Linked DNA regions of Homo sapiens. The protein of the gene in region 2 interacts with the protein of the main gene of each other region in a pairwise test. Each region holds a gene or a part of one and is shown on either strand. Other genes may lie near its edges. The genes, in order: RAB40C and PSD.

Evidence for each region.
Region 1: the proteins of PSD (region 2) and RAB40C interact in a two-hybrid assay, tested with the Homo sapiens proteins (one large-scale study listed by IntAct).

What each region holds. Positions count from the first base shown.
Region 1 is NC_000016.10:596,284-600,088, reverse strand, and holds part of RAB40C (ras-related protein Rab-40C), read right to left. Parts: intron 1-3,805. UniProt on the Homo sapiens protein: RAB40C small GTPase acts as substrate-recognition component of the ECS(RAB40C) E3 ubiquitin ligase complex which mediates the ubiquitination and subsequent proteasomal degradation of target proteins.
Region 2 is NC_000010.11:102,412,092-102,415,896, reverse strand, and holds part of PSD (PH and SEC7 domain-containing protein 1), read left to right. Parts: intron 1-667; coding exon 668-1,034; intron 1,035-1,699; coding exon 1,700-2,128; intron 2,129-3,321; coding exon 3,322-3,516; intron 3,517-3,669; coding exon 3,670-3,750; intron 3,751-3,805. UniProt on the Homo sapiens protein: Guanine nucleotide exchange factor for ARF6. Induces cytoskeletal remodeling.

The DNA.
Region 1 (3,805 bases), on a different chromosome or scaffold from region 2:
TGCCACAAGGGAACAAAACTTTGCAAATCCACGCTGACTGATGCCACGAGGGAACAAAACCTTGCGAATCCACGCTGACTGATGCCACGAGGGAACAAAACCTTGCGAATCCACGCTGACTGATGCCACGAGGGAACAAAACCTTGCGAATCCACGCTGACTGATGCCACGAGGGAACAAAACCTTGCGAATCCACGCTGACTGATGCCACGAGGGAACAAAACCTTGCGAATCCACGCTGACTGATGCCACGAGGGAACAAAACCTTGCGAATCCACGCTGACTGATGCCACGAGGGAACAAAACCTTGCGAATCCACGCTGACTGATGCCACGAGGGAACAAAACCTTGCGAATCCACGCTGACTGATGCCACGAGGGAACAAAACCTTGCGAATCCACGCTGACTGATGCCACAAGGGAACAAAACCTTGCTGAATCCACGCTGATTAATGCCACGAGGTAACAAAACCTTGCTGAATCCACGCTGACTGATGCCACGAGGGAACAAAACCTTGCTGAATCCACGCTGACAGTAGCGAACACCCACGGGTGTGCATTTTCACGTACATGCCTATCGACAGAAGCAGCCATGGCAGCAGCGCACACGGAGGAGGCACGGCGTGGCCCCAAGGGAAGCTGCCTCCTCCTTGCTGACCTGGTGAAGTGGGTCCTGCTGGCATCAGCTGACCTGGCGGCTCCTCTCAGGCAGGAATCAGGTGGGCGCAAGACTCTGCGGGCAGCCACTAGGGCTGTGGCCGGCCGACACGGGCAGGCATCAGCCTGACACTGCCTTGGCAGAGCCTGAGGACACAGACACCCCTCGGAGCAAAGCTGGTGGCACAGGCAGAGAAGGGTCTCCTGTCAGTGGCAGCTTCGGCCGGGGCCGGGGCCTGGGCTGTGACCATACTCCCCTCCCCTGCAGCAGTGACTTTCTGGACCGAAACACAGCACCTCGGCAACCCTGATCAGTGTCACTGTGTTTGTGTTCAGAGTCCTGAATCCTGATGTCATCTACCCTATTACCGCCCCTCCCAGCTAGGTCTGACACACAGGCTGTACCTGCTGTGCCCAGGTGGCCGACAACGTTGCTGACCAGGAAGTCAGGCGAAAGCCCAGCAGCAGCCGCCGGCCCCGGGCAGGGAAAGCAGCACACAGGCTCCCACCGGGTTACCCACGCTGCTGGAGCTGCTGGAGAGTGCTGTGCTTGACCGCCCGGCCTACACCTTCACTCAGGGTTGACATGAGGTTCTTACATCCGGCCGCTGTACAAACTGTAAAGTACCTGCCCATTTCCAGGACTCAGCTCTTCTCTTCTTCCATCCTCTTTTCTTTATTTTTTATTTTTTGAGACAGGGTCTCACTCTGTCACCCAGGCTGGAACGTAGTGCAACAGTCAGACTCACTGCAGCCACCACCTCCCAGGCTCCAGTGAGTTTCCCACCTCAGCCTCCCAAGTAATTGGGACTACAGACGTGCACCACCACACCCAGCTAATTTTCTTTTTTCTTTTTTTTTTTTTTTTTTTGTGAGACAGAGTCTCGCTCTGTCACCAAGCTGGAGTGCAGTGGCACAATCTCAGCTCTCTGCAACCTCCGCCACCCAGGTTCAAGCAATTCTCCTGCCTCAGCCTCCCAAGTAGTTGGGGCTACAGGTATGCGCCACCACGCCCGGCTAATTTTTGTATTTGTATTTGTATTTTTTTTTTTTTTTGAGGTGGAGTCTCGCTCTGTCACCCAGGCTGGAGTCAGTGGCGTGATCTCGGCTCACTGCAAGCTCTGCCTCCTGGATTCACGCCATTCTCGTACCTCAGCCTCCCAAGTAGCTGGGACTACAGGTGCCCGCCACCATGCCCAGCTAATTTTTTGTATTTTTATAGAGACAGGGTTTCACCATGTTAGCCAGGATGGTCTTGATCTCCTGACCTCGTGATCCACCTGCCTTGGCCTCCCAAAGTGCTGGGATTACAAGCGTGAGCCACCATGCCTGGCCAATTTTTGTATTTTTAGTAGAGACGGGGTTTCATCATGTTGGCCAGGATGGTCTCAATCTCTTGACCTCGTGATTCACCCACCTTGGCCTCCCAAAGTGCTGGAATTACAGGTGTGAGCCACTGCACCCGGCCTTTTTTTTTTTTTTTTTTTTTTTTTTTGTAGAGATGGGGTCTCACTGTGTTGCCCAGGCTGGCCTCAAACTCCTGGGCTCCAGCACTCCGCCTACCTCGGCCTCCCAAGGTGCTGAGATTGCAGGTGTGAGCCACCGTGCCCAGCCCTCTGCTCTTTTCCAAAGATGCTGAGCTGGGCTGGGCACAGTGGCTCATGCCTGTAATTCCACCAACTTTGGGAAGCTGAGGCGGGCGGATTGCTTGAAGTCAGAAGTTCAAGACCAGCCTGGCCAACACAGCAAAACCTCTGTCTCTACTAAAAATGTAAAAAATTAGCCAGGTGTGGTGGTGCATGCCTGTAATCCCAGCTACTCAGGAGGCCAAGGCAGGAGAATCGCTTGAACCCATGAGGCTCAAGAGGTTGCAGCGAGCCAAGATAGTGCCATCGAACTACACCCTGGGTAACGGAGCAAGACTCTGTCTCAAAAAATAAAAATTAAAAAAAAAAAAAAGATGCTAGATGGCTGTCCCTCTCACAGGATGGGCATGTCTTTCATCAGGGTCAGTTTACACAGCCAGGACCACATCACCCATCCAGGATTCGAATCCTTCCCAGTTTGGTTTGAGGACTGTGTTCACTGTAAAGACGGCGAAGGCTGCTCAGGGGCCGAGTGCTTCTGTTTCCACTCTGCCATCTGGGAATATGGGACCAACTCTTCCCTTCACCCTTTCCACAACTCCAGGCCCCCCAGCACCAAGCCCTCTGTAAGCCATGGTCAGAAGACCCTTCCACATGCCCCTGCCACCACCCACCTCATCACCAGCACTAGAACCTGGCTGCTCCTGAGCCCCTCCCATCCCATCTTGCCTGGACCACCTCCCCCTGCTACCTACATGTGCAGCACCCTGGCGGTGTCTGGTCGTGCCCTGGTCTTCCGCCCCATACCCATGGGTCCCTACCTCTCCACAGCGCCAATGCCCTTGTCCCTCCGCTAATTTCTGAAGGACAAACGTCCAGAAATCTCTGCTTTACTCAAAATCCTGATCTCAGCACGAGACAGCCGCGCACTGCCTGTATCAGAGTGCGCCGCCATCCCCAGGTCGGCTCAGAAGCCTCCTCGCTACCTTAGGCTCAAAGTGCGAGTCCACCCTGCTGACATCTGTTTACCTTCACTGCCAAGAGGACTGAAGAGGCCCCTCTTCCACCCAGCTCCTGCCCTGAGGATGCCCACAGCCCATGGTCTTGGCAGCCAGTCCTTCTTCCCACAGCTGCTCCTCTTCCCACCGCCTTCGTAACTTCTGGTCCCTGACACCCGCCAGTTCCACAGTCTGCACATCCTTCTCCCGACCGCCCAGGAAGTCAGCTCAGCCTGACAAGCAGTCTCCCCGCCTTCTCACAGTGGTTCGGCAGCGTTCTCCGCACCAGGATGCTGGACGCCGACACCTTTCCCTGCTTACTCCAAACGCCCGGCGGATGACACCCTGGCTGACGTGGCCCCTGGGCCCCAGAACGGCCCTCGGTGGGGTGGCATCGTACCATGTGCTGCGCAGGGGAGGACTCAGCTGTGATGCAACCCCTTCCTGCTCTACGCCAGCTCGCAGGGGCTCCAGACCAGGGTAGGCGGCAGCTTTTCAGGGACCAGCAGCTTCGCGCCTTCTCAGCTGCAATCTTCAAATAGAACAAGAGGCAAAAGTACCTGCG
Region 2 (3,805 bases):
AATGTCTCCCCAGGCCTCAATCTTTCCATCTGCGCTATGATGGGAGGCTGGAGGATAGGACTGGGCAGGGCACCTGGAGGAAGCTGAGTAATGGAGGGAGGGGACAGAAGGATATTGAGGGGCATTCCATGGAGTAGAAAAGAGGCTCAGCAGGGCTCAGTGGCCCCAGTATTTTGGGAGGCCAAGGCAGGAGGACTGCTCAAAGCCAGGAGTCCAAGACCAGCCTGGACAACAAGCAAGTCTCTACCAAAAATTTAATTAGCTGGATGTAGTGGTGTGCACCTATAGTCCTAGCTACTGGGGAGGTTGGGTGGGAGGATCCCTTGAGTCCAGGCAGTCAAGGCTGCAGTGAGTTATGATTGCACCACTGCACTTCAGCCTCAGTGACACAGTGAGACCCTGTCTCAAAATAAATAAATAAATAAATAAAAAAGACAGAAAAAGGCTGGTCTTCCCCCAGCTCCTCAAAGCCATTTGACAAGAACTTGATTTAAAATGAGCTCCACTGGCACCAGGAACAAGCTAAGTATGTAGCAGGAGGAATGGTGGCTAGACAGTGAAAGAACTTCCTGTCAATATGAGGCAGTGGGCAGAGATCCTAGAGCAGAATTAGGACAGGGAGCTGACGTGGATAACCTCCTGACCTGGATGCCTATGCACACTACAGGTGCTAAGCCCCCAGAGCAGGCCCCCCCATCTCCACCTGGGGTGGGCTCAAGGCAGGGCTCTGGGGTGGCTGTGGGGCGAGCAGCCAAGTACTCCGAGACAGACCTGGACACGGTGCCCCTGAGGTGCTACCGCGAGACTGACATCGATGAGGTGCTGGCTGAGCGGGAGGAGGCCGACTCGGCCATCGAAAGTCAGCCCAGCTCTGAGGGCCCACCAGGCACTGCCTACCCACCTGCCCCACGGCCCGGCCCACTCCCTGGCCCTCATCCCAGCCTCGGCAGTGGCAATGAGGATGAGGACGACGATGAGGCAGGTGGGGAAGAAGATGTGGACGACGAGGTGTTTGAGGCCTCTGAAGGGGCCCGGTGAGTGGGGAAGTGGGAGGGGGAAGTGGGAGAGGGAAGCGGCTTGCTCCTTCGCACTGGCCCACAGGCAGAGCCGGGCTCAAAGGGCCTGGGATAGAGATGGGTGTGGGGCTGGCGGGGCAGTGTGTATAGCAGGAGATTCTAGACAGAGGCCTGAGGCTTGGCAGAACACTGGGGATGTGGGGAGCAAAGAGGCCAGGGGTTCTAGCAGAACAGGGGGCAGGGTGAGAGGCCAGAGGCCACAGTCAAGCCCAGGAACACAGGAGCATGAGTCTGGATCCTGGATCCTGGTGGGAGAGTGGGGAGTGTGGGGACATTCCTTTCCGTCTCACACCCCAGTGTCGCTTGGAGCCTCATCTTCTCCTAAGATGTTGCTAGAAATAGAAATGGGATGGCAGAAGGGAAGCGGATCACGGAAAAGGAGGAGAAAGGGAGATTAGCAGGGAGGGAGGGGATGGGGTGCTGGGGACTGGTAGGGCTGGTGTGCCCCAGGGGGCACTGAATAGCTTGGCGCCCTACCCTAGAGGCTCTTTTTTGTTAGTGGGCTGGAGCCAGTGAAAAGGGGATGATAATCCCCTTAGCAGAGTCAGTGTGAGAGTTCAGTGAAATCCTGCCCCAGCCCTGTGATCTGGGCCCCTAATCAGAGATTCTCCCTGCCCCTGCAGGCCAGGGAGCCGGATGCCTCTCAAGTCACCTGTGCCCTTTCTACCTGGGACGAGCCCCTCGGCTGATGGGCCTGACTCTTTCAGTTGTGTGTTCGAAGCCATCCTGGAGTCACACCGGGCCAAAGGCACCTCCTATACCAGCCTCGCCTCGCTGGAGGCCTTGGCCTCACCTGGCCCAACCCAGAGCCCCTTCTTCACCTTTGAGCTGCCTCCCCAACCCCCTGCACCCCGGCCCGACCCACCAGCTCCCGCCCCACTTGCCCCTCTTGAACCGGATTCTGGTACCAGCTCTGCTGCTGATGGTCCTTGGACACAGAGAGGGGAGGAGGAGGAGGCAGAGGCCAGAGCCAAGCTGGCCCCAGGGAGGGAGCCCCCTAGTCCCTGCCACTCAGAGGACAGCCTTGGGCTGGGGGCAGCACCCCTTGGCAGGTAAGTAATTCCTTTTGTCCCTCAGACTTGAGGCCCCCAGGGCTCCAGAAACAGCTGCTGTAAGGGACAGATCCTGAGTGTGAGGATTGGTTTATATTCCTGACCCCTGAGTAGGGGTGGTTAAGGGATGCAGATCCTGTTTTCCTATTTGGAGGACTACTGCCATTAGCTGTGAGGGAGAGTCCCTCACAGCACCCCTCTTGGTCTCAAGTCCAGTGGCTTGAGAAAGCATGATTCAGCATTGAAGGATCCCAGGAGAATACCCTTCTTGCTCTCCTGGAGGGCCCTTTCTTCCCTTGGCAGAGTCTTTAGCCTGCTCAGAATTCTTGTGACCTTACCCTCACCCAGCCTGAAGGCTTCACCAAAGATGCAGCCACCAGCCTCTCCCACTGCCTCCCTCCCATGTCACCCCTGCCTAATCAGGCATCTCTCGTCCAGCTCCAGGAAGTCCTTTCACAGTCTAACCTTTCTGCTCTCCCCTCTGCCAGCTACCCTCTCAGTCATGGAAGCCATGGCAACAGGAGGGGGTGGCCAGGGAGACCGGGTTGCCTAGCAACCAGGAGTTTCCGGCCTCTGTCTCTGGGCTGACAGGTGGCTTTGCGAGTAGAGCAGCTGGGGTGGGAAGGGGAGGAAAGAAAGGGAATGAGGGTATGCACCCCGACCCTTAACCCCCTAACTCCAGAGCCTGCTTCTGTGTGGGCAGAGGGGGAGCACCAAGGAGAGGTTCCTCTCCCTAAAAAGCAGGAGGGGGAAAGCCTTCGGACCAGTATCCCTGCTGCCCTCAAATCTTTCCCTGGCCCTCCACAGTTCCTCCGTGGTAGCCCATCTATTCCAGCTTTGTCCATAGTCTAAGAGACAAAGGACTATGTTCTGTGTAGGGCCAGGGTGGGAACAGATAATCTATGTCTAATAGCAAATGTAGGCCCCTGGGAGCTTGAGGAAGCAGCCAGAACTCCCACAGCAGCAAGACGGATGTGGGTTAGATTTGAGGCAGGACTTCCACAGAGAGGTGGTAATGATGGAGTAGGCTGATGGAGAGAATCTAATCTCCTTCCCTGGAAAAAAGAAGAATGCTTTCCCCATGTCCCTCCACTCCCTCCCCTTCTCCATCTTCTGGGCCTGGAGGCAGAAGGAGGGTCTGGATGGCTCCTAAGGACCCTGCCCCAGCCTGAGCTGGTGTTCTACCCCGGCAGCGAACCACCCCTGAGCCAGCTGGTGTCCGACTCAGACTCAGAGCTGGACAGCACAGAGCGGCTGGCCCTGGGAAGCACAGACACCTTGTCCAATGGGCAGAAAGCGGACCTGGAGGCTGCGCAGCGCCTGGCCAAGAGGCTGTACCGACTAGATGGCTTCAGGAAGGCCGATGTGGCCCGGCACCTGGGCAAGAAGTAAAGCCACTAGGCTGGGACTGAGGATGGGGGCAGAGGGAATGCATCCTGAAGGCAGCTCTCCATCTAATGTCCCCTGGTCATTGGGTAATCCCCACCTGACCCCCTGCACTTCCCCTTGAGACCCTACCTGTCTCTCTGCCCTGCCCACAGCAATGACTTCAGCAAACTGGTGGCTGGGGAGTACCTCAAGTTCTTTGTCTTCACGGGCATGACTCTGGACCAAGCTCTCAGGTGGGTGTTGACCCCTTGGAGGACAGCCCCCACTCTCCGGGGTTCGTGTTAGGGC